7 linked regions of the Homo sapiens genome follow. The protein of the gene in region 1 interacts with the protein of each later gene in a pairwise test. Each region holds a gene or a part of one and is shown on either strand. Other genes may lie near its edges.

What was found.
Region 2: the proteins of KRT31 (region 1) and C19orf73 interact in binary tests that used the Homo sapiens proteins (3 or more experiments, as listed by UniProt).
Region 3: the proteins of KRT31 (region 1) and DEF6 interact in binary tests that used the Homo sapiens proteins (3 or more experiments, as listed by UniProt).
Region 4: the proteins of KRT31 (region 1) and PRPF18 interact in binary tests that used the Homo sapiens proteins (3 or more experiments, as listed by UniProt).
Region 5: the proteins of KRT31 (region 1) and NUFIP2 interact in binary tests that used the Homo sapiens proteins (3 or more experiments, as listed by UniProt).
Region 6: the proteins of KRT31 (region 1) and KIAA1217 interact in binary tests that used the Homo sapiens proteins (3 or more experiments, as listed by UniProt).
Region 7: the proteins of KRT31 (region 1) and CATIP interact in binary tests that used the Homo sapiens proteins (3 or more experiments, as listed by UniProt).

Annotation. Positions count from the first base shown.
Region 1 is NC_000017.11:41,394,283-41,398,946, forward strand, and holds the start of KRT31 (keratin, type I cuticular Ha1), read right to left. Parts: upstream 3,327-4,664; 5' UTR 3,258-3,326; coding exon 2,910-3,257; intron 2,714-2,909; coding exon 2,631-2,713; intron 2,295-2,630; coding exon 2,138-2,294; intron 1,342-2,137; coding exon 1,180-1,341; intron 1,089-1,179; coding exon 963-1,088; intron 787-962; coding exon 566-786; intron 1-565.
Region 2 is NC_000019.10:49,117,744-49,121,011, forward strand, and holds C19orf73 (putative uncharacterized protein C19orf73), read right to left. Parts: upstream 1,401-3,268; 5' UTR 1,280-1,400; coding exon 890-1,279; 3' UTR 659-889; downstream 1-658. Other genes in the region: LIN7B (protein lin-7 homolog B), read left to right, coding at 112-275, 609-630.
Region 3 is NC_000006.12:35,307,476-35,311,612, reverse strand, and holds part of DEF6 (differentially expressed in FDCP 6 homolog), read right to left. Parts: intron 1,944-4,137; coding exon 1,803-1,943; intron 1,155-1,802; coding exon 969-1,154; intron 1-968.
Region 4 is NC_000010.11:13,624,965-13,628,798, reverse strand, and holds part of PRPF18 (pre-mRNA-splicing factor 18), read right to left. Parts: intron 1-3,834.
Region 5 is NC_000017.11:29,255,712-29,259,848, reverse strand, and holds the end of NUFIP2 (FMR1-interacting protein NUFIP2), read left to right. Parts: 3' UTR 1-4,010; downstream 4,011-4,137. UniProt on the Homo sapiens protein: Binds RNA.
Region 6 is NC_000010.11:24,215,275-24,219,411, reverse strand, and holds part of KIAA1217 (sickle tail protein homolog), read right to left. Parts: intron 1-4,137. UniProt on the Homo sapiens protein: Required for normal development of intervertebral disks.
Region 7 is NC_000002.12:218,362,990-218,367,126, forward strand, and holds part of CATIP (ciliogenesis-associated TTC17-interacting protein), read left to right. Parts: intron 1-1,638; coding exon 1,639-1,763; intron 1,764-3,675; exon of another isoform or gene 3,676-3,809; intron 3,810-3,937; exon of another isoform or gene 3,938-4,034; coding exon 4,035-4,111; intron 4,112-4,137. UniProt on the Homo sapiens protein: Plays a role in primary ciliogenesis by modulating actin polymerization.

The sequences.
Region 1 (4,664 bases):
AACAGAAAAGGCACAGACTCCCCTGCTACAAAGATAACTAACTCAAATTGTTAATGGTCTCCCTGCCATAGAGCACCAAGGTAGACAGAAACTCTGAAACTCTGATGTCTACTCTCAAATCCATTCATGCCAAACTGATGACATGGGGTGAGTCATTTACCTTCTCCAAGCCCCAGTTTACTTTCCTGTAGAATGGAGGGAATACTGATCCAGCCCACCTGGTGGTAATTATAAGATCAAATCAGGTAGCCTATGGGAATGTACCCACTAGGCAATACAGTATTGTAAAAAGTAAGGCATTGATCACATATCATGCAGTCATGCATATTATCATACTAGAATGCAAAGACTTGGCAGTGCAATTTCAGTTTGTACATCAAACAACTCTTGCTACCAAACCATTTATGTTTTAAATGATGGCCATATTATGTTGTCTGAGTTCTGTTTGAGCATGTCTAGTGTGAAGGCATAATTTCCTTTCCAAGGTATGCAATATTTGCATGGTGTCTAACTGTTACACTCACACGTGCATCATTTCATCAAACACGTCTGCCCATGTACTCACTTGCAGTCCTCGCTCTCCAGCAGGCTCCGGTATGTGTTGATCTCACACTCCAGCCGGGCACGCACATCCAGCAGCACCTGGTACTCCTGGTTCTGCCGCTCCAGGTCACTGCGGATCTCCGCCAGCTGGGACTCCACGTTGGTGATCAGGCTCTGCACCTGGGACAGCTGGGAGCTGTAGCGGGCCTCACTCTCTGTCAGCGTGTTTTCCAGAGAGTCTCGCTGTGGTGGAGAAGATTGGGAATGTCAGAGAGCTGCTCCTTCAAAGGGTTTCTTCACAGGATTACAAGGAAGTCACAAGCTCCAAGAGCTAAGGAGAGTGTGTGGCCCCAAGCACATCCCCGGGACTCTGCCTCCCAAGTTCCCGTCGCTCACCAGCAGGTCTGAACAATACACACCAGGTTGTGCTGGGCCTGCAGCTCGATCTCCAGGGCGTTGACTGTGCGTCTCAGCTCGATGATCTCCGCCTGGTAGGACTGCAGCTGCTCTGAGCTGGATACCACCTGCTTGTTCAGCTCCTCGGTCTGAAACACCCAAGGGGAGAAAGGATCAGACCCTGCCTCCGGGGCCCTGGGGGGCCTTGGGTCCTGAGGGGCCACGTGCTTAGATGCCCACCTGCGTGGTGAACCATTGCTCCACTTCCCTGCGGTTGGTTTCCACCAGGGCCTCATACTGACTCCTGGTCTCGTTCAGCACCCGATTCAGGTCCACAGTGGGAGCAGCATCCACCTCCACATTGAGGCGGTCTCCAAGCTGGCAGCGCAGGGTATTGACCTCCTATGGATGCAGAAAATACAAGAGTTACTATGCTCAGCAAAGAATGAACTCTAAGGAATGGCATTGCTTGTTGAAACCCTGTTAGTCTATTTTCTCGGAAAAGAAACTTTGAGTGGAGCAGTTTGTGACAGCTCAAGGCACTCCATGTGGCATAGCCCCCTCCCCACCATCTGCTGTGCCATGGCACTTGGCTTCAGAAAAAAATCCCAAAAGTTTGCTTGGATGCCACTGAAGGATGAACTAATTGATATTCAACTTTCCCAGTTTACAATTGGCTGTGAGGACCTCAGAATGCCAAAAAAAATAGGCTGTGCAATTTCAGACCATATATCAAAAAACTCTTGCTGTCAAGTAAGAGGTAAGAGCATGTCATGGCCCCTCCCAAGAGAGAGGAAGAATCTCACAAACACTCTTCACCAATACTTTGAAAGAGTAGAGACTCACATTTATAAGGTTTGATATTTTTTTTCTTGGCCTTTGCCAAAAAAAAAAAAAAAAGACTTTACAAAGCAATAACACTGCAATGCTAGGACTCATTCTACAACTATTGATCAACTGCAAGCACATGGAGCTGCTCCGGGCAACTCAAATAATGTGCTAGTTTAAAGTGAAAGATGTTTCCTGTCTGGGAACATGAACAGGTCTTATCTCTCTCCAATTTTTCTCTTACCGTGATGTTTTCAAAGGAAACCCTCAGTCTTGTACTCATACTCTGCATTCTGCTGCCCCAAATCACTAAAGCAACCCTGAGCCAGAGGCTGAGACAGGTTTGTGCATTTCTCATTTCTAGTCTCACCTGCTCATGGTTGCTCTTGAGGCAGAGCAGCTCCTCCTTCAGGGACTCCACCTGGGCCTCCAGGTCGGACTTGCACAGGGTCAGCTCATCCAGGATCCTGCGCAGACCGTTGATGTCCGACTCCACCAGCTGCCGCAGGGACAGCTCGGTCTGGTACCTGCGCAAGGACAGGGTCAGAGTACTACCTGGTAGATCTTCAAGACTCACAGGAATGATTTTTGATAACCTCATGTGCCTTATCTTTCCACTTTCTGTAATGAATAGGCCCAGGAGACAGAGGTTTCTGGAGGCTCCATCAATACCCAATATTCATCCCAAAACAAACAGATTGATGTGAGTCCTCATCCATTTTTGCATTTCTTTGCTTGGTTCTCCCCAGTCCTCTGCAGAATCCTTCACAACAAGTGGGTAGATCTGTTTTCAGATGGAAATCCCTTTTCTTTAAAGATTAAACAGAAGCAATTGACACTAGTGCAAATTCCGAACAACTCACTTGGTTCTGAAATCATCCGCAGCCAGCTTGGCGTTGTCGATCTGCACCACAAGCCTGGCATTCTCAGACTTGGTACACAGGATCTGGGGAGTGAGAGGTGGCTTAGTGAGGACTGAAAATAAATATGAAATCATCAACTTTTTAAAAATGACTTAAGCCATTTTGAAATAAAAGAGGAAGCAAGAATTATGACAGCACAGAAGCAAGAAACACACTTCTCTATCACAGACAGAATCACAGCAAACTCTCTTGCTTGGAGATGACAGCAATGCCGCTCACCTTCTGCTGGAGCTCCTCAATGGTCTTAAAATAGGACTGGTAACTGGGGCACAGCAAGGGCTCCTGCTGCTGAGACCGCTCCCGGATGAGGTTCTCCAGCTCCGCGTTGTCCCGCTCCAGCTGACGCACTTTCTCCAGGTAGCTGGCCAGGCGGTCGTTCAGGAACTGCATAGTCTCCTTCTCGCTACCATTGAAGGAGCCCTCGCAGAACCAGTTGCAGTTGCTCACATTGGCGGGGATGTTGCAGGCCCCGGGCAGGGTGCAGCTGTGGCAGCTGGGGGGCACGCAGGGCCGGGAGGAGCAGCTGGTGCGGCAGCTCAGGCTGGGCAGGCAGAAGTTGTAGGGCATAGTGCTGGGAGGGAGGGAGGGAGTGCCTGGCTGAAGACAGAGTCTAAATTCTCCAAGCCACAGAGCTGTGGGTCTCCTTCCTCTAGGGAGCATTTATATCCCACTGCAGAGGGTGTGGACACAGTATGTAATGTCTTTTTTCTTTTTATTTCTTCACTTCTTTTCAAACGCCCTTTCCTTCAGTCTGTTATTTGCCTTCCTCTGAAGAGTCCCTTCTCCCATAAAATTCTTTACTTGGGCTTCTTGCTAAGTCAGGACTCCTCCGCAGACAGTCCACCCATGAAATCAGAGTTCTGTGGTAGGCCTTCAAAGAGGCTACACAGTCCAGCCCAAGTATCTGCCCTCATTAATTGAGGTGTTGATCCATCCGATGACATTCTTTTGTGTCACATAATTCTGCAGGCCCATAAACATACTCATGTCCTGGTCCACCTGCCGTTTCTAGGGAGAAACACGGATTGATTTGAGGAAGAAGTTGCATTAAGAGGCCACAGTGGACTGTCTTTCCCTCTGCATTTAGAGAAGAATCTTCAAATGATGGAGCATTCTGTGCCTTGGAAGCCTTAAGGTGGATGATTAGAATCAATGGAGGACACGACTGAAAAGATTAGACAGCGATTTGTGTTTTACGGGTCCGTGTAATACTTCCCCCCCACCACCACATATTACTTAAGAAAATTGTAGAGGAGAGAATTTTAAAGGTAGAGGCTTTGATAACTAGTTGGAGAACAAGAAGTTTCTGGGGTAAGAGATCGTTTTGAAAGAGGCTGAAAAGTGCAAACCGAGAGAGCCATAAAAAACACATTTAAGGCTGGGCACAATGGCTCACGCCTGTAATCTCAATACTTTGGGAGGCCGAGGCCGGCGGATCACGAGGTCTAGAGATAGAGACCATCCTGGCCAACATAGTGAAACCCATCTCTACTAAAAATACAAAAAAATTAGCTGGGCATGGTGGCACCCACCTGTAGTCCCAGCTACTCGGGAAGCTGAGGCAGGAGAATCACTTGAACCTGGGAGGTGAAGGTTGCAGTAAGCCGAGATGGTGCCACTGCACTCCAGCCTGGTGACAGAGCAAGACTCCATCTCAAAATACAAAACAAAACAAAAAAAATGCATTTAAATAATCTAGGAAAGATATTCAGGGGCAGAGAGAAAGGAATAAGGAGGTCTTTGTCAAACATTTCCTAAGGTTATCCATAGTATCCGAACAGAGTAGATGGATATGTTAGGAAAGTCAGGAGATAGCCCAAAGGGGCCTCCACGGCCTGAAATCACTTGTAGTTGATCTTTAAACTTCATATGAATTGACCCTATATTCCATAATATATCCATGTTGGCTTTAATCTTTATATATATATATATATATATATTTTTTTTTTTTTTTCAGATGGAGTCTTGCTCTGT
Region 2 (3,268 bases), on another chromosome or scaffold:
TTGACATCTCAGGGCTGGCACCAGGCTCACTAGCAGTGGGTCCCATCTCCCAGTGGGGGCTGGACGAGGGCAGCGGGCCCCAGGCTCAGCTGTCTGTGTTGGGCCCTGCAGAGCGTTGAGGGTGAGCAGCATGAGAAGGCGGTGGAGCTGCTGAAGGCGGCCCAGGGCTCGGTGAAGCTGGTTGTCCGTTACACACCGCGAGTGCTGGAGGAGATGGAGGCCCGGTTCGAGAAGATGCGCTCTGCCCGCCGGCGCCAACAGCATCAGAGCTACTCGTGAGCCCCTGGGTCACCACACCCCTGGGGCCTCCACGGGCTCCCTTTAACCCCAGGCTCCCAAACCAGGCCAGTGCTTCCTGGATCTTCCAGCCCTGGCCCCTCCTCTGGGATCCTGACCCTTGACCCTTGGCCCAGGCTCTCACCCCAGGCTAGTTTGGCCAAATCCCCTGGGGAGCCCTTAGCTTCCTTCCATCCCAAGATACGGAACCTACTGTGGCTGGGATCCCTCAGCCCACTTACCTGGGCCCTTGCCTCTGCAACCCCAGTCCTGCCCCTCTTGTCTACCCGGAGCCTCCCTGATCCCGGGTCCCTTGTCCACCCCCCTTGCAGGTCCTTGGAGTCTCGAGGTTGAAACCACAGATCTGGACGTTCACGTGCACTCTCTTCCTGTACAGTATTTATTGTTCCTGGCACTTTATTTAAAGATATTTGACCCTCACTGAGTGTCTGTGTGTCTGTCCTGCATCCCTGGGTTGGTGTCTTGAGATGTGGAGGGAATGCGAGGAGCTGAGGTCAGGCCAAGCCGTTGAGAAGCCTTTTCCAGAGTCTGAGAACAGAGGTTAAGACCTCTCCCTAGGTCTGAAGGCGGAGACAGGCCGGCTTCCAAGAGACTAGTCCGAGGGCGGAGGGCGGAGGCAGGGACCCAGTCTGGGTCTGAGTGCTGGGGCAGAACTGAGGACAACGCTGCCTACCCTTAAGAGCGTCTGAGGGCGAAGGCCAAGTCCCTTCCTCCAGAGTCCTGAAACGCAGCCGGAGCCAGTGGGCGGCCTCTGTGTGGGCGGGGCGGAGCGAACCATTAGCCTCGTCCGCCGGGGGAACCCTGCAGGCCGCACTACTGTCTGCGTGGGAGTCGCGGGTGGGGGTGCCGCGTGCAGTTCCCGAGGCGGGCGCAGGGGTGCAGAATGAGGTGCCCTCGCCCACCGGGCGCTCACTCCACCTTCCAAACACAGCGCGTCTTTCCGGAAGCAGCCCCCGCCTTGAAATCCAACCTTTAGCCTCATCCCGCTGCCCGCCCAGCCCTCGTGTCCCGTGCGGCGCGAGGGCTAGTGCGCGCCACTGCCGGGAGCCGGGGTCGCGACTCGCGTTCCACGCCGCGCGCTACTCGCTCCAGGTGACATCATCCCCCTGCCGGGCTCCGCCTCCCGCCCCAGCCGCCTCACGCCGCGTGCCTATTGGTCGACGCGCCTTATGCCCCGCCTCTCGCTCTCCGCCCGCGCGACCCCTCCCGGCCGGTGTGGAGGCGGGGTCTAGTCGCCGGCCGGCGCCGACGCTCTCTCCCATTGGCCGCTCTTCGCCGTCTGTCAGTCTCCTGTTAAAGGGGCCACGACCGCCCGGGAGCCGTGGGGGGGGAGGGGGAGGGAGGAGGAATTTTTTTGGGGGGAAGGTGGGATTTGGGGGGCGCTGGTGGGCACCCCTGGATCTGGCGGCTGCGGCCTCGCGGGGGGAGGCTGATCGGTGACAGGGGCAGGGGGCTATTTTGGGGGTAGAAGGCAGTGAGAGCGTGAGGGGGAGGGGGGTCCCCAGCGCCCAAGCCGGAGCCAGAGACGCGGAGCCCGCGCGAGCGTCGGAGACAGGGCTCCAGGGCTCCGAAGCGACAGAGCCGGGCCCCGGCCGCTGCCAGGGGCCCCGCCCGGCCCCCCCACTCCACCCCACGTCCCTCCTGCAGCCCAGCTCCGCCCGCAGCCGCCGCGGACCAGGCAGGTAAGAGCCCGGCCCGGCCCTCCTGGCAGCGCCCACCCTGGGGACCCCTTGGCGAGCCTCCCCCGCCTCCCCGAGATCCCGGATTCCCTTCCTCATCCCAGGGGACCCCCGAGCCCAGATTTCACACCCCAACCCCGGGGACTCAGGCGTGCCCCTCCCGGCGCCCAGAGTCCCCGACCGAACCCTAGAATCCCGGGCGCACCGCCGCCTCGCGCCTCCTCCAGGGCCCAGGAGCTTGGATTTCCCGGTCCGGCCCCGGGACCCCTCCTAGAGCCTAGATCCCCCTTCCTGACCCTGTCCTGGGAGCTCCAGACACCCGCCGCGGCGGTGCCAGACTCCCCAGACGCGTCCGCATCGTCCCCGCTTCGCGCACTCCGTCTCCCGTCGCCAGCCTCGGGCTTGCACAGCCGGCTGCGTCCCACGGTCCAGGCAGGCTCGGCGGCCGCCCTGGACACAGGCCCGCTCTGGAGCTGTCCATGGTCAGCGCGCTCGGCAGCCTCGCCTCCCCCCACCTCCTGCCGCCGCCACCAGGGAGGGGGCGCAGGCGGCGCGGGGATCCCCCCGCCGCGCCTTTGACCCGGGAATACCCGGGCCCTCCCCGACCAGGGCGCCCCAGCCTCTGGGTTCTGCCGGCCAGGCTCGTGGCCCCGTCCTCGGCACCCCAGGTTCCTGGGACTCCAGCTGCTCCCTGAGGATCCAGGGCTTCTGAATTTTCCTATTCTGGTCGCCGTGGGGACCATGGCACCCGGGGATGCAGCTCCCACCCCGTTCGGGAAGCCTGTCCGTGTCTACACCTCTGCTGGCCCCAGGTGGTAGCCCTCACCCCGTCAGCACCTAGGAATCCTGTTCCCCAGCGTTTGCTCTGCTTAGAACCCCGCTGTGCCCTGCAGACACACAGACTTAGCCTCCTGGCACCCAGCATCTGCTCCCCGAGGGACTCAGGCGCCATGACTCCTTTCCTTTGGGGGACCCGGAATGTGATTCTCAATGCAGTTCTCTGACTTCTGTTCACACTCCCACTTGGGGACCTAAATGTCTTGGTCCCAGTCTCCTATCCCCTCAGGGACCCAGGAGTTCAGACCCCAGCTTCCGTACTGCCCACCAGCTTTTACTGAGGCTGTCTGCCTCAACCCTCTCTCCAAACAAGACCTCAGGCTCTCACCTTCCAATCCCCCATCATTTACCTCCACAAGGATTCAGGAGTCCAGGCTCCCAGCTCTGTCCACTGCCCTCCCCAGCAGGTATCTAGTTTCTCAGGTCTCACTTTTAGGAACCAGGTCTTCACAGCC
Region 3 (4,137 bases), on another chromosome or scaffold:
GCCCTGACTGGCAGGGGTCTAACAAGGGCAGCCAGCCAAGTGTATGTGCAGATGGACACATGTCCCTCACCTGCCCCAGCAGCTTTTTGGGACACTCTGTTTAGGACTTTCTGGGGGATCCTGGGTCTTGTTTGGGTGTTTAGTAGAGGGCACTGGTTCAGGGCTCGGGTGGTTCCCTTCATCACCCTTCCCACAAACAGAAGCCAGGACAAATGTGAGTGGAGCTTGACATGCTAGGGCTTCTTGTAAGTACAGAAGCCCCCTCTCCTGTAAACCCCACTCTAAAGACCTAAAGTCACCCTGGCATCTCCACAGCCACCAAGAGGACTAAAGGGTCACAAGGCCAAATGGGCAGGGGAGGGAAGTGAGGATAAGAGGGAGGGTACAGGTGGATGGGAAAATGCCTTCCCTGGCTTCACCCAGGAGTAAGGAGATAGGGACCAGATTCCCAGCCTTTTCTCCCAGGATGCCCTATCCCTGGGTCTCTTAGCTGAGTTTGTCCTGGCTTTCCAGAAGAAAGGCAGAAAGGGAAAATCTGGAACCAGAGTAACCTCCTGTCTCAGAAAGGTCTCCCCTTGCCTTGTAAAGCATCCTTCCTGTCCTGGAAGAAGTGGCAAAAGGTAAAGGAAAAAAAAGCACCCTTCCTAGATTGCCAGTAATGCTCAGTAATGTATCTGGCATTTAGACCTCTGTGTAAACAGAATTTGCAGATCATTTTCCTACAGTGAGGACCAGCAGAACCCTCATGAAAGTGTAATTTCAGTTTTCCTGGAAGAAGGCAAAATTACTCTGACACAGGCAGTTCTAGGCATCTGGAGACAGCTGGGTGAGGACAGATACCAGCATGGGAAGATGGTAAAGAAAGAAAGGGGATATGGGAAGGCACCAAAGGTGGTTTGGTCTCATTCATGGTTTTGCTTAGGTCTGGTCCCAAGTGATTCAGTCCCTGGGGCTGCCATCACCCTCACCTCATCAGGAACCATGATCAGAGGGTACTTGTCCTCAGACAGGAAGTTGAAGAGGCACCAGAGGCGGAAGGCATCCTGATTGGAGAGCATACTGTTCCCGTTGCTATCTGCCCGATAGTTCTTCTTGGCCGTCAGCGTCCAGCACAGCTCATCAAAGTGCTCTTTAACAAAAGCCCCCTCCTCCACCTGCCACCAGGGCTGCAAATCAGCTGACTGCATATCTCAGCTCTACCACGACACTAGGCTCCAGCTGGGTTTCTTGGGTTCATCTATGCCCCTGCTCCCCACCTGGCCAAGTCCAGGGCCCTAACTCAAGGGATCCCTGAGCTGATTACCAGGTAACTAGCTGGTTCCAACCACTCCACCCTCCACAACACACCCACACCCACCCAGGCCCCCTGACAACAGATTAACTCTAGTCTTTCAGCCCAGAGGACAAAGAAGGAGAAACCCAGCAGGAAGCTAAGAGCCAAGAACCTGGAAACACAGTGACAGATTGGAGGAGTTGGAGGGGGAGTTCAGGGGGACAGTCTGGGAAGGGTGGAGAACCCTGGAAGCTGGAGGAGGGCCGGGCAGGGATTCGGTGGAAGGTTATGGGTAGGGTGGGGCCCACCTCATTAGAGATGAGGGACATTGAAGGTGAATTGAGGGGGACAGGAAGGGGGCAGGTGGCTGGGATGTGAGGGACGTGATGGGACAGCAGTCACGGACAGAGCAGGCAGAAGTAGGAGTTTATGGCAGGGGCGAAGAGTTGGAGTGGCAAGGTATTAGGCTGCTGGCCAGGCTGGAAAAGTGGGGAGAGGTTACAGATGCTCCCTACAAGCTGGGCCCCACCTTGTCCAGGATGTACTTGTTGAGGTAGGGCATGTATCCCTGGCTGGACACAGGGCCGTCATCATCATCTCGGAAGTGTTCCTCCAGGGCCACGGGGTCATGGGGGATGTGCAGGACCGTGTACAGGTTGTGGGACAGCACCTGGGATAGAGTAGAGTGGCAGTGTGTCTTTCTGCACCCCAACCAAAACTGGGCCAGAGGACTGCTCCCCACCTCTCTGCTTGTCCTCACCCCATCCTGGCTGAGTTCTCTACACACACTGTTCAGTTCAGTAATAACTAAAACTTATATACTATGTGCCAAGCACTGAGCTAAAGTACTTTACATATCATTTGCTTAACCACCATAACAACTACTCATATACCCATTTTACAAATGAAAACTCCTGCAGCCCTGAGATATTTCTCACCCAAGGTCACAGCTGGCAGAACTGGAATTCAAACCCATGCAGTTATACTCTTAGCCACTTCATTAGGTATTGGTGTCCTCTTTCTACAGACAGGGAGACTGAGGCTCAAGGGATTCAGTAACTTGCCAAAAGACCCACACTGAACAAGAGCTTGGAGTTCAAATCCATCTCCATCAGATTCCAAAGCCCAAGTGCTTCCCACAATGCTAGACAGTTTGCAGGGTTTGCAGGGACTTAGTCTGCCACCCCAGGGCAGAAGCTGCCAATTTATCATGGTTTCCATCAAAGACTCAGTGTCCTGGCTGCAGTGTGCCTATCACCTAAGCGTGTCTGCTCTGGGAGAGGAGAGGGCTCAAAGAAGGGTCATGAAAAATGGTCCATGACATGGAGAGGGCAAGGCTTAGAAGGGATAGTGGTCATAATGGTGTGCAGGGGAAATGTGGGTTTGTTGAACAAATCCATGATATTAGAATAAAGGGGTTGAAATCTGAAATCTGGTGAAAATAAAATCTCCTTGGGGTAATTCTATTATAGCATTTGTCACAAGCAGTGTAAATGATTAAAAAGTCACTAGTTACTATTGCACACTTACCATATGCCGGTCACTGTAGGAGGTGGTTTATTTAATTAAAACTGTTTTTTATTTTATTTTATTTTATTTTATTATTTTATTTATTTTATTTTATTTTATTTTATTTTATTTTATTTTATTTTATTTTATTTTATTTTGAGACGGAGTCTTACTCTGTCACCCAGGTTGGAGTGCAGTGGCATGATCTCAGCTCACTACAACCTCCACCTCCTGGGTTCAAGTGATTCCCCTGCCTCAGCATCCTAAGTAGCTGGGATTACAGGCACCCACCATCACATTCAGCTAATTTTTGTATTTTTAGTAGAGACAGGGTTTCACCATGTTGGCCAGGCTGGCCTCGAACTCCTGTCCTCAGGCGATCCGCCCACCTCGGCCTCCCAAAGTGCTGGGATTACAGGCCTGAGGCACCATGCCCGGCCAAAACTTTTTTTTTTTTTTTCGGTAGAGACAGAGGTCTGCATATGTTGCCCAGGCTGGCCTTGAACTGCTGGCCTCAAGTGATCCTCACATCTGGACCTTCCAAAGTGCTGGGATTTCAGGCATGAGCCACTACACCCAGTCAAAGCGCTTTTTATACCCCATTTCTAGTCTTCACAATCACCTATATACGCAAATATTATTAAGCCTGTTTTTCAGGTGAAGACACAGAGGTTTGGAAATTTTAAGAGTAAATGGCAGAGCTGAGGTTGAAACTAAATGTGCCTGGTTCACAGGTTGCCTTCCTACTAGAATACTGATGTCAAGTCTCCCTCCTCCGTTGGATTGTGAACTCTGGAGACAAGGTCTCTGTTCATCTTTATGTCCCTCAGCATCTATGTCCTCTTTTGTACATCAAGTGCAATCAATACATGCTATATTGAAGGGCTTCTTCCACCACCAGCAGTTCACCTTGGAATCAGTTCCTAGGAGGCAGGAGCTAGCACTGTCTCGGAGATGGTGTGTGTGCCAAGCCTTCATTTTATTCTCTTTTCAGAGAGGAGGGGGAGAAAGTATTGAGACTTTGCCTCAGTGTCCTCCTGGGGCTCAGTTTTCCTTGGCAAACTGGGAAGTGGGAGATCCCAGGAAGGGAGTATTTCCTTTTTTTCCCTCATTTCCCTCTGGGCAGTTATCCCTGGAGTTTTTGGTTATGTGAGCCAATAAATCCCCTCTCCCTTAAGCCATTTGAGTTTGGTTTTATCACTAATTCCAGGAAAGTCTTGCCTAACACATCTGTGGTCATAGAATACCAATCCCCACTCTAAGGGGTGCCACTGGCTCAATGCCTAGCACTTAAAACCCAGGGTGACCACCTCAAGAGAATAATGCCAACATCCACTGACCACTTCTGAAGTGAC
Region 4 (3,834 bases), on another chromosome or scaffold:
TCCTTGTTTACAAGGAAAGACTTTGCCAAAGGTCTTACTGAAATCTACGTAACTTAACACCTGTTAAGCTCAATAAAATCACCAAAACAAACAAACAACACAAAAATCCCTGCAAAATCTCATTGGTCCCATAGTAAGCAGACAACACAAATATTAATCACAGTCAGTATCCATGGGTTATGTGTCCATGGATTCAACCAACCCTGGTTAAAAAATATTCAGAAAAAAACGGCAACAAAAAAAGAATTAAAAATAATACAAATAAATATCATATAATAACTATTTAAATAGCATTTACATTGTGTTGGGTATTGTAAGTAATCTAGAGATGATTTAAAGTATACAGGAGGATGTGCATAGATTATATGCAAATACTATGTCATTTTCTATCAGGGACTTGAGCATCCAGATTTTGGTATCTGCAGGGTCCTGGAACCAATCCCTGAGGATATTAAGGGACAAATGACATACTTCTATGAATGGAGCCATAATCTAACAGATTCCACATCAGAGAAACAAGACTGTGAAGTATTTAAAGTCCTTGGTGGATTCAAGGATTGCCCACATTATGAGATTTAGGAATTAGGGGTGTGGAGGGAGGTTATCTTTCAACTGATTCACAAGAAGGGCTTTTGCACACGTCATTCACTTGGCTCCTTTTTGTTGTTGTTGTTCCCTGTGTAATCAGGTATTTGCTTTGGGATAAAGACCATTCCATCACATAGTCCAGCTTATCCTGCTGTGAATTCTAATCATGTGTATGCAGAACTTTGATCGGTAGCCATGGAAATATAGATGATAGCACTAATTTGGCATCTTAAGGTTCCTGAAGGAATAGGTGAGAAGAGGGGCAAAGTCAGGCAAGAGAACACCCTGATGAAATACAAATAGCTTCACTCAGCAGCAGAGCATGGCAAGAATTGTTATGCGCAAGCGGAAGGCAAACTGATGGTTTGCCTTGGAGGTGGTTTTCCCCATGTCAGAAGAATTGGAATCTTAGGTGTGTGCTCCTTACAGAAGACGTGTGTGATGCCTATTTATACTCACTAAGCAGATTCTATGATTTAAAAACATATACTAGTGTTCTCCCTGAAATCTTAGCTGCCAAGGGTTGTGAAACTCAATTGTTTTAGTCATAAGTAGTTACCACAGAGCGGTATGATACATTTTTGTAAAAAAGATTTGAGAGTGCATGGCAGAGATAGGTGTGTAATCTCAGGACAGAATATCGTTATTTTCCAGATGGAAACAAATCTTTTCAATTAGACCCCTCAGGATTTCAGTTTCAAACTGCTTATGGATGCTTAAGCCAGTAAAACAATGAGCTGCTTAGCTTAGCTTATGGCAAATGGCTTAAAAACTTGTGGTATTTTTAATTGGCTTTTTATTTATATAAAGGCAATACCCTTATCTAACAAATGTTTATTCAGTGCCTACTATACATACTGTTCTAGGCTCTGGAAATACAGTAGCGAAGAAGCCAGAAAAAATCCCACCCTCCTGAGATCGAATTGTGGTAAGGGAAGACAGGCAAGAAACAAAATAAATTCATAAAAAAAAATTTTCAACGATGCTAAGTGCTTTGGAGAAAATAAAGCAGGCAAGTGGGGTAAGTGGACGTGTGGGGCAACCTGAAGGACTTTGGCTTGGACTCTGTGAACTAGGAAGCCCCTGCAGGGTTCTGAACAACAGAGCAACACGATCTGACTGTATGTGAACTGGATCAGTCTGGGGAATGCTGCTAAGAAACTGGAGAGGAGCAATAAGAGAAACTCAGGGACCAGAGAGAAGACACTGGAATAATTCAGATGAGAGGTGGTGGCTGGACCCAGTGGCAGCAAGGAAGGTGGTGAGAAGGGATCGGGCTCCAGACATACTTTGAATATAGAACCATCAAGCTTTGACATGGATAGGATATGGGTTGTGACAGGAAGAAAAAAGCCAAGGATAATTCCGGGTTTTCTGTGTACACTGTTTGAGGGGAAAAAAAAAAAATCACACGATTCTTGTATCAAATAATAGCAGTCCTCTACCTCACTCTTTCCAAATCCTAATTCCAGCTCTCCACAGGCAACCCTTTTCAAACGTTTTAAGTGTTTCCTCTGGCATTTATTGCCACATTTCTAAATACTATACTGACAGTGCTTGGTTTTTCCACCAGATATTAGTGATATCTCCTGACTTCCTACTATGAAGCAGAGGATATCTCACTCTTACACCACTGTCCACTGGCCCCACATATGCACGCACACGCCTCAAAAGCACTTTCTCCCACATCCTCCCCAAACCACATTTTTAGTGAAATCAATATTCAGGGTTTTCCTTATAAAGGCTACACAAATATCGTTCAAAGCAAACCCACATAACATATTATGATGATGACCTCTCATAAGTTTTTTTCCCCTTTTTGTTTTGTTTTTCTAATCCATTCTCCAACATGAGACTACCCTCACATGCCCAAACATCACTCAGGATCTGATCAGACATGCCAGGGAATATAAGCTCTTCCATTTCTTCCTGGAGTCCTTCAACCATCTACTCTAACCTGGACCCACTTGTACTGCTACCATCCTGGAGCATGACATCCCTGCAGCTCCAGCCTGGGGATTCCTCTCGCCTTGCTCTGTGGTGGATCTCAGCTCTTGGATCTTTTTCTTTGGATGGAGGACATCCTCAGGTAGAGTCAAGACTGCCCACATTCCAATCCCAATTCTACCACTGACTAGCCATGTGACCTTGAGAACTCACTTCTCTACGCCTCTTCCCCACTTACAAAACAGGGAAATGTGAGTGTCCATCTCATATTGTGGCTGTAAAGTACTGAAGGGAAGCACAGTAAGCACTACTTAAGTGTCAGCTATGACGATAATGACTACAGAGAATGTGTGCATGGGAGATGTCATTAGCCTATATTTACCCTTCACTTGATGGTTCAGAAAGGAAGAGAATTCTGAGTTGGACAATATTTCCCTAGCTATTGCAAAGGTACTGCTCTACTGTCTTCTACCTTCTAGTGCTATCAGTGAGAAGTATGACAGTATTTTAATTCCTGCACCTTTGTAAGCGACCTTTTCTCTGAAGTCTTTGAAATCTTCTCTTTAGCTTTGGCCTTCCAACATGCATTCTTTTGTGCCTTGATGTGAACTCTTCCTATTCATTTGCGCTGTATTAAGTGAATTCTTTTCATTCTACAAACTCACGTCCTTCAGGTCTGGGACGTTTTCTTACATTAATTCTTTATTTCCTATCTTCCCTTTTCTGTTGTAATGGCTATAAACGTTATAGATTGACTCTTATTTTCTTACCTTTCCTGCTTTTCATATTTCAACTTTATCTTCTAACCCACTAATGTAATTACTAAATTTTTGCTGATTTAAATTTTTGCTAATTTTTAAGAGTTCATTTTGATTCTCAAACTTTTTTATAGCCTAATGTTCTTATTTCATGGCTACAACGTTACCTAAGAATTTTTTTGTTTGTTTTGTTTTCAGACCCGTCTGTCACCCAGGCTGGAGTGCAGTGGCACGATCCTAGCTCACTGCAGCCTCAAACTCCTGGGCTCAAGCAATCCTCCTACCTCAGCCTCCTGAATAGGCATGCACCACCACGTCCAGCTAAATTTTTTATTTTTTGTAGAGAAGGGATCTATTTTGCCCAGGCTGGTCTAGAACTCCCGGTCTCAAGCACCCCTCCCACCTCAGCCTCCTAAAGTGGTGGGATTACAGGCATGAGCCACCACGCTTGGCCTCTAAGGATATTAATTATCATTCTCAATGAAATTTTTTTCTGTTCTCTATAATTCTGTTTCTATGAAGGTCTTTTTTTCTGTGTGTT
Region 5 (4,137 bases), about 12 Mb from region 1:
AAAGTAGTTAAAGGATGCCAGCAATAGTGCGAATAGAATTTTCGGTTGTCTGCATAATAAAAACACCCATTGCAGCATGATTGGTATGTTGCTCTTGCATTATTGGGAATGGTAAATCAGTTATGGGCTAGAAACTATGGAATGGCCGTCCTCATATGTGATGGGATTGCTGATTCAGACTTCCCTATTTTCCATACAATTTTGTTATGTGCAGAGTTCTAAAGCCATTTTATAATACTGCAGTATCCCCCCCCCCCCCACCTTTTTTTTTTTGAGACGGACTGTCTGTTGCCCAGGCTGGAGTACAGTGGCGCAATCTTGGCTCACTGCAACCTCCACCTCCCTGGTTCAAGCAATTCCCCTGCCTCAGCCTCCCATGTAGCTGGGATTACGGGCGCACACCACCACACCTGGCTAATTTGTATTCTTAGTAGAGACGGGGTTTCACCATGTTGACCAGACTGGTCTCGAACTCCTGACCTCAGGCAATCTGCCCGCCTCAGCCTCCCAAAGTGCTGGAATTACAGGTGTGAGCCACCGTGCCCGGCCAAGTATCTCTTTTCTACAGCCTTATTAAACTAACTACAAACATTTATTTTCCAATTTAGTTTTACTTTCAGTGCATATCAAAGTTGTTGTACTCTTCAGACCAACAAATTAACTTGAGGGCAAATTACATAGCTTTCCATGTACCCTTTTTTCCTCAGGTGCTAATCAAAGGCTCTGAAAATGGATACTGCTTTAGTGATGTCTGCTTTATTCTTAAAATGCTTATTTCTTTTGCTAGATGTAAAGATTTGGTGTTAACAAAAGTGGTTTTAATATGTAAATATGAATGAATGCCTTTAGTTTACCCTGTTTGTCTATTATTAATCTGTTTTCATTTATCCTTCATAGAGGAGGATCCTTTCATGATCTTGAATACATTTCATTAGATATTGTTGCATTTTAAGAATGAAAATACAACTGTTTTCTGTCTTAGATTAATCCTGCTGCTATGAGAAACTGAAAATCAAGAATGTGATGCACTTTTTACATTACTATATACCATACATATACCATAGGTTGCTTTGATACCTTTCCTGTAGCACAGCCACTAACAAGAGTGAATGAATTATAAAATTCTTTTTGGGAGGGAATCAATACAAGTAACTAATTCTTAGCTGATATTGTCCTATGAAGGACAATAACTTAGGAATATAAGAATTCTGTTAATAGTACACTTTTTGGCCTTAAATGTCTTCTACTACTGAAAATAGTTTAAATCTTAGCTTTGTTTCTATTATTCCCTCTCTCTGCCTCAGAAAGAGGAATTGGGAAGAATGGCTTAAAGGACGTGGTGTCATTGATTTGTTGCTGATCTTTTAGAAAACATTTGTCTATGTAAGCTGGGGACTTATTTTTTGTTTGTATATAGAGGGGAAATAGTGCTGCCCTGAACCAATCAGATTTAGTTTAAATCAAATCAATCAAAACTCCAGCTGTTTCTCTTGTCTTTTTACTTAGCAAAGGAAAACTTTAGTGAATGCTACTTGACAAGAAGAAAAGTCATTTCTCAAGCACATACCCAAACTTGAAGGTGATTGAACCCAAAATAATGGGTGGGAAACACCAAATGAGGTGGAGGAATGAGAAAGATGTGTGGGCCAAAGCTATCTGGTTATATTTTGATGTTGCCAATATCGCAAAGCCAAAATTTTAATTTGCTTATTTAATATATTTGTTGGCCAGAGATCTATTTTTATATCAATGTGCCTTGCATGTATATTAAAAAAAAAAAATTGGAAACGCCATGTAGTAATGCCTGAGATAGTCGATGGTTCTTACCACCTCACTAATTTTTATGCAGTATGAAATGCTCATTCTATTGCCCAACTGGTGCTCTCTGTTTAAAGTTACAGATCTTGCGAAACTGGAACTATTTTATAAGCTGGGGAAGTGATTTACTTTTTTTGTTGTATCTTTTTTGTTCTTAGTCTGTTAGTGGCTGTCCTGTAGTGGGAAATAGTAAAAGGATTCTTCACTCCCTTCTCCCCTCAGCACCTTCTTCAAGTAAACATTTCTTGTGTGCTTTGAAAAAAGTTTCAGCTTGCTGTCTCTTTTAGTGTTTTAAAGAAGTGTTATACAAAGCATTGTTTGCAAAATATAGGGAGATAATGGAGTCCACTTTAATTTGGAATTCTGTGTGAGCTATGATCCAAGTTATCAGCTCTTTCCAACTTTAAAAATTTTGTTAAAAGCACCTTGCTTAGAAAATTTTAAATATTTATGTCTGCAACAATTGTCTCAAAATAATAAACTGTGCAATTCTTGTCATTAAAAAAAAAAAAGATCTGAATTTTCCCTAATGTGACTTGTTAGTTTCTCTCTGTATTTCCTGCCAGTGTAAATGTGAAAGCTTTGCTTGCATTACGTTTTAGAAATGCATTTTGCACACTCGAATTTTGCCGAAGCTCCGTGAAAAGGTTAGATCTAAGTAGATGAATAAAGCTATGCACATGTTTTGAAAGTTTAATTTGTGTGTCATTACCAAAAGTGACCGATTTGTCCTTACTACTTTGCTGTTGTTAGCTTTACCATCTTTGGAAACTTGGCTCAAAGTTACATAGTTCTGGGCTAGCTCATCAGTGGAACTAGGAGAGAGGAAAACTGGCACCTATTTTAATAAAGTTCAATTTAAACGAGAGCTTGACTTGTATCTATTAAAGAGCTTTTCTTGAAACAGGGCAGTTTTATCAGCTTTACAAATCATTGGATGCTCTTCCTTAGTAATATTTTGGTTTATTTGATCAAATAGAAATGGAAAGTAATTCAAACTGAAAGACCCTTTTTTGTCATATGGAACTTGGTGACGATTTTTTGTCTTAAAGCTGGTTTAAAGGTAGGATAGGCTTTTACCTTTATTGCTTTAGCATAAATTTGGTTTACTGAATTGACTGGCTTGAGATTAGAATTATTCAGTTGTTTGTAAGATCAAAGCACTGGTTGTTTTAAAGATAACGTGTATCTTTTAAAAAATTGCCCAAGCTGATTAGAACAAGTTTAGGAGTTGGGTACATTTGGTTCAAGTGCTGCAATCTGTATGTACTAAATAGCTTTACTTTGTGTATGTGTACTTATAATGTGTAGATGTACTACTACCCAGGTTTTGTCAAATCATCTTTTTTAAAGTTTTTTTTTTTTTAATTGGTTCAGGACCTTTGTAGGAGAGGCTAATATGTTTAAGTAGAAGATATTACTGATAGCATTTTCCCCATGCTCCTACATAAAAAATAAATATTTCCATTTTATAGCTTTTTCAATATACAGAAGAGGGTTACTTCTTCATCAAGTATATTGTTGCCTTTGAGGACACAGCAAAACCCTTCTATATGTATCTTCATTGATAGTGGCAGTTAAAAACTAAGTTATCCAGTTAAGACTTAAAAGGTGACCCATATTAATTGCATGGCCTTAAAAGGCAGAAATGCAGGAGTGTAGCAAGCATCATTTTAGATGGCTATGGTTCCTCTTCCGCATCTGTCAGTAGTTCACTTATGTTCAGTCTTAGAACCTACTGGAGGAGTGAAGTAATTTCTCTGTCTCGTGCAGAGGCACTAAGGAGCTGAGTTACCTCTTAATCTGGGGGAATGGATAATAAGTGGAGTACAGTTATGTTAAAGGATGTTCCCCCCGCTCAAAAAAAAGTTTCAATGTTTGTTTTGCCCAGTCAAAAATATAGGTCTTTTCTACATATAAGAACAGTCACCAGAAATTTTCCCTTTTGCTAAATGCTTAGGTATTTGCTATAGCTGTTTCTGATGTCATGGATTCTGAGGAAGTGTCATTTACGTGATGATCTTCCTTTATTGATGTCTTCATCATGTTCAGTGTTTTAAAAATATAAATTACAAACACTCTACAACCATACCCAGATTTACTTATTTTATCAGAAAAAAAACTTGAGAAATTTGTAGATCAAATTGAGAGACAATAAGTGTACATTGTTGAATAAAAAATTTTAAAGTTTCTGAGGTGTTTGTTATCTTTTGTGTGCTTTAATTTTTTAAAAAGTCTTTACTGACTAATCTTAAATTCAGCTGATAAAAAGTAAAAAGAAAAACAAACCGAAAACTAAGTTTGTGACATTGATAATGA
Region 6 (4,137 bases), on another chromosome or scaffold:
CATTGGGCATGGCGACTCCTGCCTGTAACCCCAGCACTTTGGGAGGCTAAGGCGGGAGGATCGCTTAAGCCCAAGAGTTCGAGACCAGCCTGGGTAACATAGTAGACCCCTATCTCTACAAAAAATTAAAATTAGCCAGGCGTAGTGGTGCACGCCTGTGGTCCCAGCTTCTCGGGAGGCTGAGGCAAGACAACTGCTTGAGTCCAAGAGGTCAAGGCTGCAGTGAGCTATGATCGTGCCACTGCATTCAAGCCTGGGTAGGTGACAGTTGTGAGACCCTGTCTCAAAACACAAAAACAAGAAAACCCTCAAGAACACTTGGTTAGGCTACTTGTGTGCAGGCAATAGGGTTATTCCTTATCCTTGTCTGTAATTATAGAAAGAGTTAACTCCAGTGATTCTGATTATTTCTGTATTTTTAATAACAGTTGCATTCTGGTAACAGGATTCTTATATAAGCTCAGTCGGGTTTCTGAAACATTTGCTTCATCACCAAGAACAAAAATAGCTATCACCCTGTACGTAAGTAATCATTGACACATGTGAACCATTTGAAAATTTTATTTTCTCATATTGGCATAAACCAAGCAAGCATAAGAATACCATCAGAAGTAACAATCGAGGGCCAGGCGCCGTGGCTCATGCCTGTAATCCCAGCACTTTGGGAGGCCGAGGCGGGTGAATCACGAGGTCAGGAGATCGAGACCATCCTGGCTAACACAGTGAAACCCCGTTTCTACTGAAAATACAAAAAAATTAGCTGGGCATGGTGGTGGGCACCTGTAGTCCCAGCTACTCGGGAGGCTGAGGCAGGAGAATGGCGTGAACCTGGGAGGCGGAGCTTGCAGTGAGCCGAGATCACGCCACTGCACTCCAGCCTGGGAGACAGAGCAAGACTCCGTCTCAAAAGAAAAAAAAAAAAAGTAACAATCGAGGAGTTATAAAGTAAAGGCTTAGACAAATTTTACTTGAGGTGGACTTTACCTAAAACACAGTGAAAAGGAAGAGCAATGGTACATCCTGATAGCCTGGACCTAAGACATCCTGCCTTCTGAGCTGGCTTTGAAGGGACAAGTTGGTTTCTGCTAAGAACAGATCAACCAAGTCATATGATGTCAATGCTGAGAGTGGGGAGCATGTAAAGGGAATCTCCATTCATCCTCGATGGTTGGGAGATGGGGTGTCAGGTATGAATATTCCAGCTAGCTCAGAAAAAAGAGTTACTTTTTTAAAAAAAACAAATAGATTAGGGAGAAAAAGTAAAACATTCAGAAGCACTTCAGGAGTTAGACAGGCTCTCTTCATGAAGTCAGGCTCTTCACGAAGAACAGTTCTTATCATAAAGTATTGCTGATATAGGCAGAATAATGTTTCCTTGTCCACTGAATTCCCTGGAAAAAGTACTAGGCTGGATCTCAGGAATCTTGGCTTTAATCCGACATTTAGAACAAATGATGTGACCTCTCTCAGTGTCATTCTCTTCATGAATAAAATGAAGACGACTGAACTAACATTAGGTATGCAAAGAGCCTTCTACCTCTAAATCTTTTAAAACTATTCTAATTTTTTTAAAAATAAGTTTCCAATAGAAGCATATTTGCCAATTATTTATCTTTACAAGTTAAGTGCAGAAAAATACAGATTTAATATTTGGGAGTTCTGCTCAGTTGAATCCCAGATAAACAGAGAACCAATCCTTCACACTAGTTTTGCAAAGCAACAGGTGTTAAGAGTCTAGGCATAAACCAGTTTCCTGAAAGCAATGTGACCACCACTCTTTCCCTTGTCTTTGCCTAGAAAGATCTGTATATAGAACTCTAGGTATAGATGCCCGTTGGTTGGGCAGAGAAAATATTTTCATCTCAGGCTGGTTTTCCTGTTCCAGTCTTCTAACCCTTGATGTGTGTTCTGGGAATAATTCTTCTTGTTTACCCTTCAATTCTCATTACATTGCTAATTATAGCATCTCCATCAGACACTGATGGGGAAGGGAAGGAAAAGCACAGCCAAATTAGTCAATTCTTCTACTTTTCATTAGTTTCAGCAGTAAGTTTACAAGGAGAAGAAGATGGAACTATTGGTTTAAAAGATATTGGGGGCTAAACTGTCATTTCATTTATTTAGGTTGCGCTTCCAACACTTAGACTCACATCATGGCTACCTTTAAAATGATCTCTTCCTTAATAACAGAGAAATAACAGGATCTACTGAACAAAGCTAGATGCCAAAAATGCTGTCTCTCAGGTTGATAAATACCTGTGCAATCTGAAGAGGTTTAGCTTTATCTTTTGAGTGCTGTGCATGTGTTTCATATCAGCCAAAATTGTTGTATACTTGATCTAACACTCTTGCCTTTTTTTTTTTTTTTTTTTTTTTTTTTGAGACAAGGTCTTGCTCTGTCACCCAGGCTGGAATGCAGTAGCATGATCATGGCTCACTGCAGCCTTTACCTCCTGGGCATAAGCAATCTTCTTGCCTCAGCCTCCTGACTAGCTGGGACCGCAGATGTGTGCCACCACATCTGGCTATTTATTTTTATTTTTATGTATTTTATTTTATTTTTTACCTTTTTTTTTTTTTTTTTGGACACAGAGTCTCACTCCATCACTCAGGCTGGAGTGCAGTGGTGCGATCTCAGCTCACTGCAACCTCTACCTCCCGAGTTCGAGCAATTCTTGTACCTCAGCCTCCCGAGTAGCTGAGATTACAGCCGTGCGCAACCATGCCCGGCTAATTTTTGTATTTCTAATAGAGATGGGGTTTCACCATGTTGGCCAGGCTGGTCTCGAACCCCTGACCTCAAGTGATCTGCCCACCTCAGCCTCCCAAAGTGCCGGGATTACAAGTATGAGCCATCACACCCAGCAATGCTATTGACTTTTAAGTGGAATTGGAAGATTAGTTTTGACATTATTAAGAAAATATATTTTAAGTTATCCAGGACAGCTAGATGAATTAACAGGATTGAGCCTCTGGAAAGGTGATTTCTTATGCAGGCATACACACATCTGTCTACATACACACATACAGCCATACAGATAAACATCCATGCATGTCCAACGGCAATAACGGCAGAAAGTCGCATCCTGCCTTACTATGCTGCACAGGCTCATATGATCTATTCTGTTTCATCCAAAGAGCATCAAGAGAGTTCAAGACAGCCGGGACAATAAACCCTCTTTCTTCTTTGAAATGAGTTGGGAAGGGAGATGGAAGGGGAGAGTTTTGGGGGTCAGAGCCAATCTTCAGTCCACATTAATCTTTGAGCAGCCCTGACTTACTGGACTAGACTCATCAGACCCCTGTTTTTTTCCTAGCACTTTTCACCTCATGTTGCTTTTCTGTTTTTTCTCTTTCTTGTGGATTTTTCCAAAATATCTCCAGTTGCTTAACAAGGATTGATGCGATTTAGAGGAAAGGTACAAAAAGCATCAACCACTAGCAAGGCTAGAAGGCTCAATGCAGCCACTTGGCAAACATCGGATTGCCTTTGGAGCTCACTCCTTCCTTTTGTCTCAATTTCCTGCCTTGTGCCTTCCACCCAATGCCCAATGCTCTATCATCCTGTCTGCCTCCCCTCCTACCTCGAGGCACCTGCTCTCCTGTCACCAGCACTCAGAGCCACCTAACGCCACTTTCCACACAAAGGCACTTCAGCACATCTGTCACTTGAGCCTTTTCCTCGACAAGGCTCAGCTCTTGGAAGCGTCAAGCCCCACACCTGGGGGAGAAGCAACAACTCTGCCATTCCAGCCATTTAAGGAGAATGTGGTCTTTTCAGTGGAGAAAAACTAAGAATGATTACAAACTAGAGAGGGATCAGGCAGAGGACATTTAGTCACAATTCCACAGCCATGTTGTCAGAGATCTGAGCCTGGCCAACTCCTCATTATCCACATGAATAGAGAAAAGCTCAAGTGTGGATTATCCAAGTCATCAAAACAGAAATACAATTCGATTTCTTGTTTGGAATGCGCTTTGGTGTTAACATTTAAATATGGGTGTGTCTAGCTGTTCGCTATTCTGGGAATCCTTGTCAAACAAAATAATGAAGCTGTAGCATGAAGGCAAGGCTTGGGCTTGCTGAAAGGCAGTCCTGTTTCCCTTTCCTGCCCCTCCCAGCCTCTGCAGAGCCCA
Region 7 (4,137 bases), on another chromosome or scaffold:
TAGAAAAGGGAGGCAGGTGGGGAGAAAACAGCACAGGTGGGAATGGGGCTTTCAAGGGCAGGAAAGCATGTTTGTCTGGGAGTGTGGGGCAGATGAATTGAGAGTGACTGAGAAGTGGGAACAGTTCAGAGAAGCAACCCTTCCGCACAGAAGTCAGTCCAGGAAAAATAAATATAGTGCAGGGCTGATTTAAAAAATACATCATTTTGGGCCAGGTGTGGTGGCTCACGCCTGTAATCCCAGCACTTTGGGAGGCCAAGGCGGGCCGATCACAAGGTCAGGAGATCTAGACCATCCTGGCTAACATGGTGAAACCCCGCCTCTACTAAAAATACAAAAAAAAAAAATCAGCGGGGCGTGGTGGCAGGCGCCTGTAGTCCCAGCTACTCAGGACGCTGAGGCAGGAGAATGGCGTGAACCCGGGAGGCAGAGCTTGCAGTGAGCCGAGATCGCGCCACTGCACTCCCGCCTGGGTGACAGAGCGAGACTCTGTCTCAAAAAAAAAAAACAAAAAAAAAAAAACGTCATTTTGGCCAGGCGCAGTGATTCATGCCTGTAATCCCAGCACTTTGGGAGGCCAAGGTGGGCAGATCACTTGAAGTTAGGAGGTCAAGATCAGCCTGGCCAACATGGTGAAACCCTGTCTCTACTACAAATACAAAAATTATTAGCTGCGTGTGGTGGCAAGTGCCTGTAATCCCAGCTACTCGGGAGGCTGAGGCAGGAGAAGCATCACTTGAACCCAGGAGGCGGAGGTTGCAGTGAGCTGAGATCGCACAACTGCACTCCAGCCTGGGCAACAGAGGGAGACTCTGTCTCAAAAAAATAAATAAATAAAAATAAATCATTTTTTAACTTTAGGAAGTGTAACATGTCCAACTTTACTGAAATATTCCTTTATTATTTCTTAACCCCAAAGGGTGTTCCGTTTTTGTTTTGTTTTTTGTTTTTAACTAAAATTTCATAATCAGCATGCCTAGGACTTCCTGCAATCAGTGATTTTAAAGCCATGCCACTGAACACACAATTTCCAGTGAGACACTTTGGGGGCTGATTTGTGTTTCTTTGACCATCTTTGTAAATTACATTCCAGGCTTGTCTATCAAAACACACCAAGCAGCAATGCATTTGACATGAACAAGCACAATCCATTCCCCTCCGTGTTCTTTGAAACATGTGTTTAACATTAGCACTTTTTTCTCCATAGCTGCAGCTACAACAGGGGTTTAAGTTTTAATCACAACAGGGACAGCCTGCCAGCAACAGCACAGGTCTGAGGTGGCCACAAATCTGTCTGGTCTCACACCTCTGAGCCTCACTTTACCTCCACCCACTGGCCCTAGTAGCTCATCCTACCTCTCCGCTCCCACACCCCCCCGCATACCGCTTCTCATCCCTGTAACAGAATTTGCCAACTAGAAGCACCTGGTCAGCGAGATGACATGGGAGGGGTCAGGGCAAGGGCAACCTGGAGCTAGCTCCCTATGAGGGGTCGCCAACTCAGCTTGGAGGTTTGGAGATGCAATATTAAATGTCTTGAGGTTGTTATGAGATGGAGAAAAGGCTAAGGTAAGATGATGGGGAGCCCTTGGCGGGCATCCACCTTACCTCCCACCCCCCAATTTTGGCTGTTGCCAGCAAAACCTGGGCTTCCAGACCATCCAGGTAGACCATCAGCAGGCTGAAGTCTTCATCGTGGAGCAGACTGTCCACGCGGAGGAGGGCATCCCCATGTCCTGCCAGTACTACCTGCTCTCCGATGGGTGAGCTGCTGATGGTGGGCCCAGAGGGGTGGTGCTGAGCTTGTAGGTGCTCAAGGAGACCGGCTGCTTCTGGGGATAGCACCAGGAAGAACTGGCATTGAGATAGGAGTGTCCCTCCGCTTTATCCATATCATTCACTCTTTCTTCATTTATTTGCTCGTCCTCTTAACCCTCACAGTGCCTCCCAAACCTTCTCACTGCACACCACAGGCCTGGGGTGTAGCTAGTGCAGCCACCACTGTGTAAGGGATAATACTGAAAAACACCAAGGTCTGAATGACTGCACACTTGATGAAATCACTGTGCTGGAAGAATTGCCTGTGGCAGGCTGCCGTGCAGTCTCCAGCAAAGCACTGGCTCCAAATCATAAGAAAATTCAGGGCTGGGCGTGGTGGCTCACACCTGTAATCCCAGCACTTTGGGAGGCTGAGGCGGGCGGATCATGAGGTCAGGAAATTGAGACCATCCTGGCTGACACGGTGAAACCCCATCTCTACTAAAAATACAAAAAATTAGCCAAGTGTGGTCGTGGGCGCCTGTAGTCCCAGCTACTCTGGAGGCTGAGGCAGGAGGATGGCGTGAACCCAGGAGGCAGAGCTTGCAGTGAGCCGAGATCGCGCCACTGCACTCCAGCCTGGGTGACAGCAAGACTCCGTCTCAAAAAAAAAAAAGAAAGAAAAAGAAAATTCAGGTGGAAGAAAGAGTTTCTTTCTGTTTTTTTGTTTTGTTTTGTTTTTTTGAGACAGACTCCAGTCGAGTTTATTTCTTAAAATTTCAGAATAGATATTCACATAATCACTACACTGGGGAAAAGGTAATCAAAACATTGTTGGCTTTATCTCATAACTTAGTATGTTTTCGGTTTTGGTGCGATCATAGCCCACTGCAGCCTCCAACTCCTGGGCTCAAGCAATCCACCTGCTTCAGCCTTCCTAGTAGCTGGGACTACAGGTATGCACCACAGCTCCAGGCCAACCTTTTTATTTTGAATGCCGCATAGCAGGAGATTCCATAATTTTTCTTTTCTTTCTTTCTCCTTCCTTCCTTCCTCTTTCTCTCTTTCTCTCTCTCTGTCTCTTTCTTGACAGAGTCTCGCTCTGTCACCTAGACTGGAATGTGTGGCATAATCTTGGCTAACTGCAACCTCCGCCTCCCAGGTTCAAGTGATTCCCTTGCTTCAGCCTCCCAAGTAGCCGGGACTACAGGTGCCTGCCACCACGCCTGGCTAATTTTTGTATTTTTAGTAGAAACAGGCTTTCACCATGTTGGCCAGGCTGGTCTCAAACACCTGACCTGAAGTGATCTGCCCATCTTGGCCTCCTAAAGTGCTGGGATAACAGGCGTGAGCCACTACAAGTGTGAGCCACTGCGACAGGCCTCTTTCTCTTTTTGAGACAGTCTCGCTCTGTTACCCAGACTGGAGTACAGGGATGCAATCTTGGCTCACTACAACCTCCACCTCCCAGGTTCAAGTGATTCTCATGCCACAGCCACCAAAATAGCTGGGATTACAGGCGCCCACCACCACGTCTGGCTAGTTTTTTGTATTTTTAGTAGAGACGGCGTTTCACTATGTTGGCCAGGCTGGTCTCAAACTCCTGACCTCAAGTGATCCACCCATCTCAGCCTCCCAAAGTGCTAGGATTACAGGCGTGAGCCACCGTGCCTGGCCAAGAGGCTCCATGATTTTCGAGTGCTGTACCTCTAAAGATCCTTTTTGTTTTTTTTAAACAGGGGGCCTAATACTTGCCAAGCCCTGTGCGTTATTTGGAGATCCAGAAATGAACACCACCCAGGAACTTAATAAACAAGAGAGGGAGGCAGAAGTAAAGAGGCCCGGGACAGGTCTCTCAAGGGGCACTGTCATGTAGGAGTCTGCTTAGGCTGCCATAACAAAACACCACAGGCTGGGTGGCTTCAAGAGAAATATATTTGCTGGAAGGCAGGAAGTCCAAGATCATGGTGCCATCAGGGTTGGTTTCTGGTGAGGGCTGTCTTCCTAGCTTGCAGACAAGTGCCTTCTCAATGTGTCCTCACATGGCCTTTCTTCCGTGCATGAGTGAAGAGAAAGCTCTCTGGCATCACCCTTTTCTCATAAGGGCACTAATCCTATCTGATTCGGGCCCCACCCTTATGACTGCATGTAAACGTAATGACCTCCCCAAAGCCCCTACCTCCAAATACCACCACACTGGGGGTTAGAGAGACAATTCAGTCCATAGCAGGCGGTCTGGGAAGATTCTCACTCTCACATGTTGTGTTGCACTCCAGGCACCTGGCCAAGAGAATACAGGTGGGCTCCCCAGGGTGCTGCATCATCACCAAGATGCCCATCTTGAGGGAAGAGGGTGAGTGAAGCCCAGGCCTTGTGCAG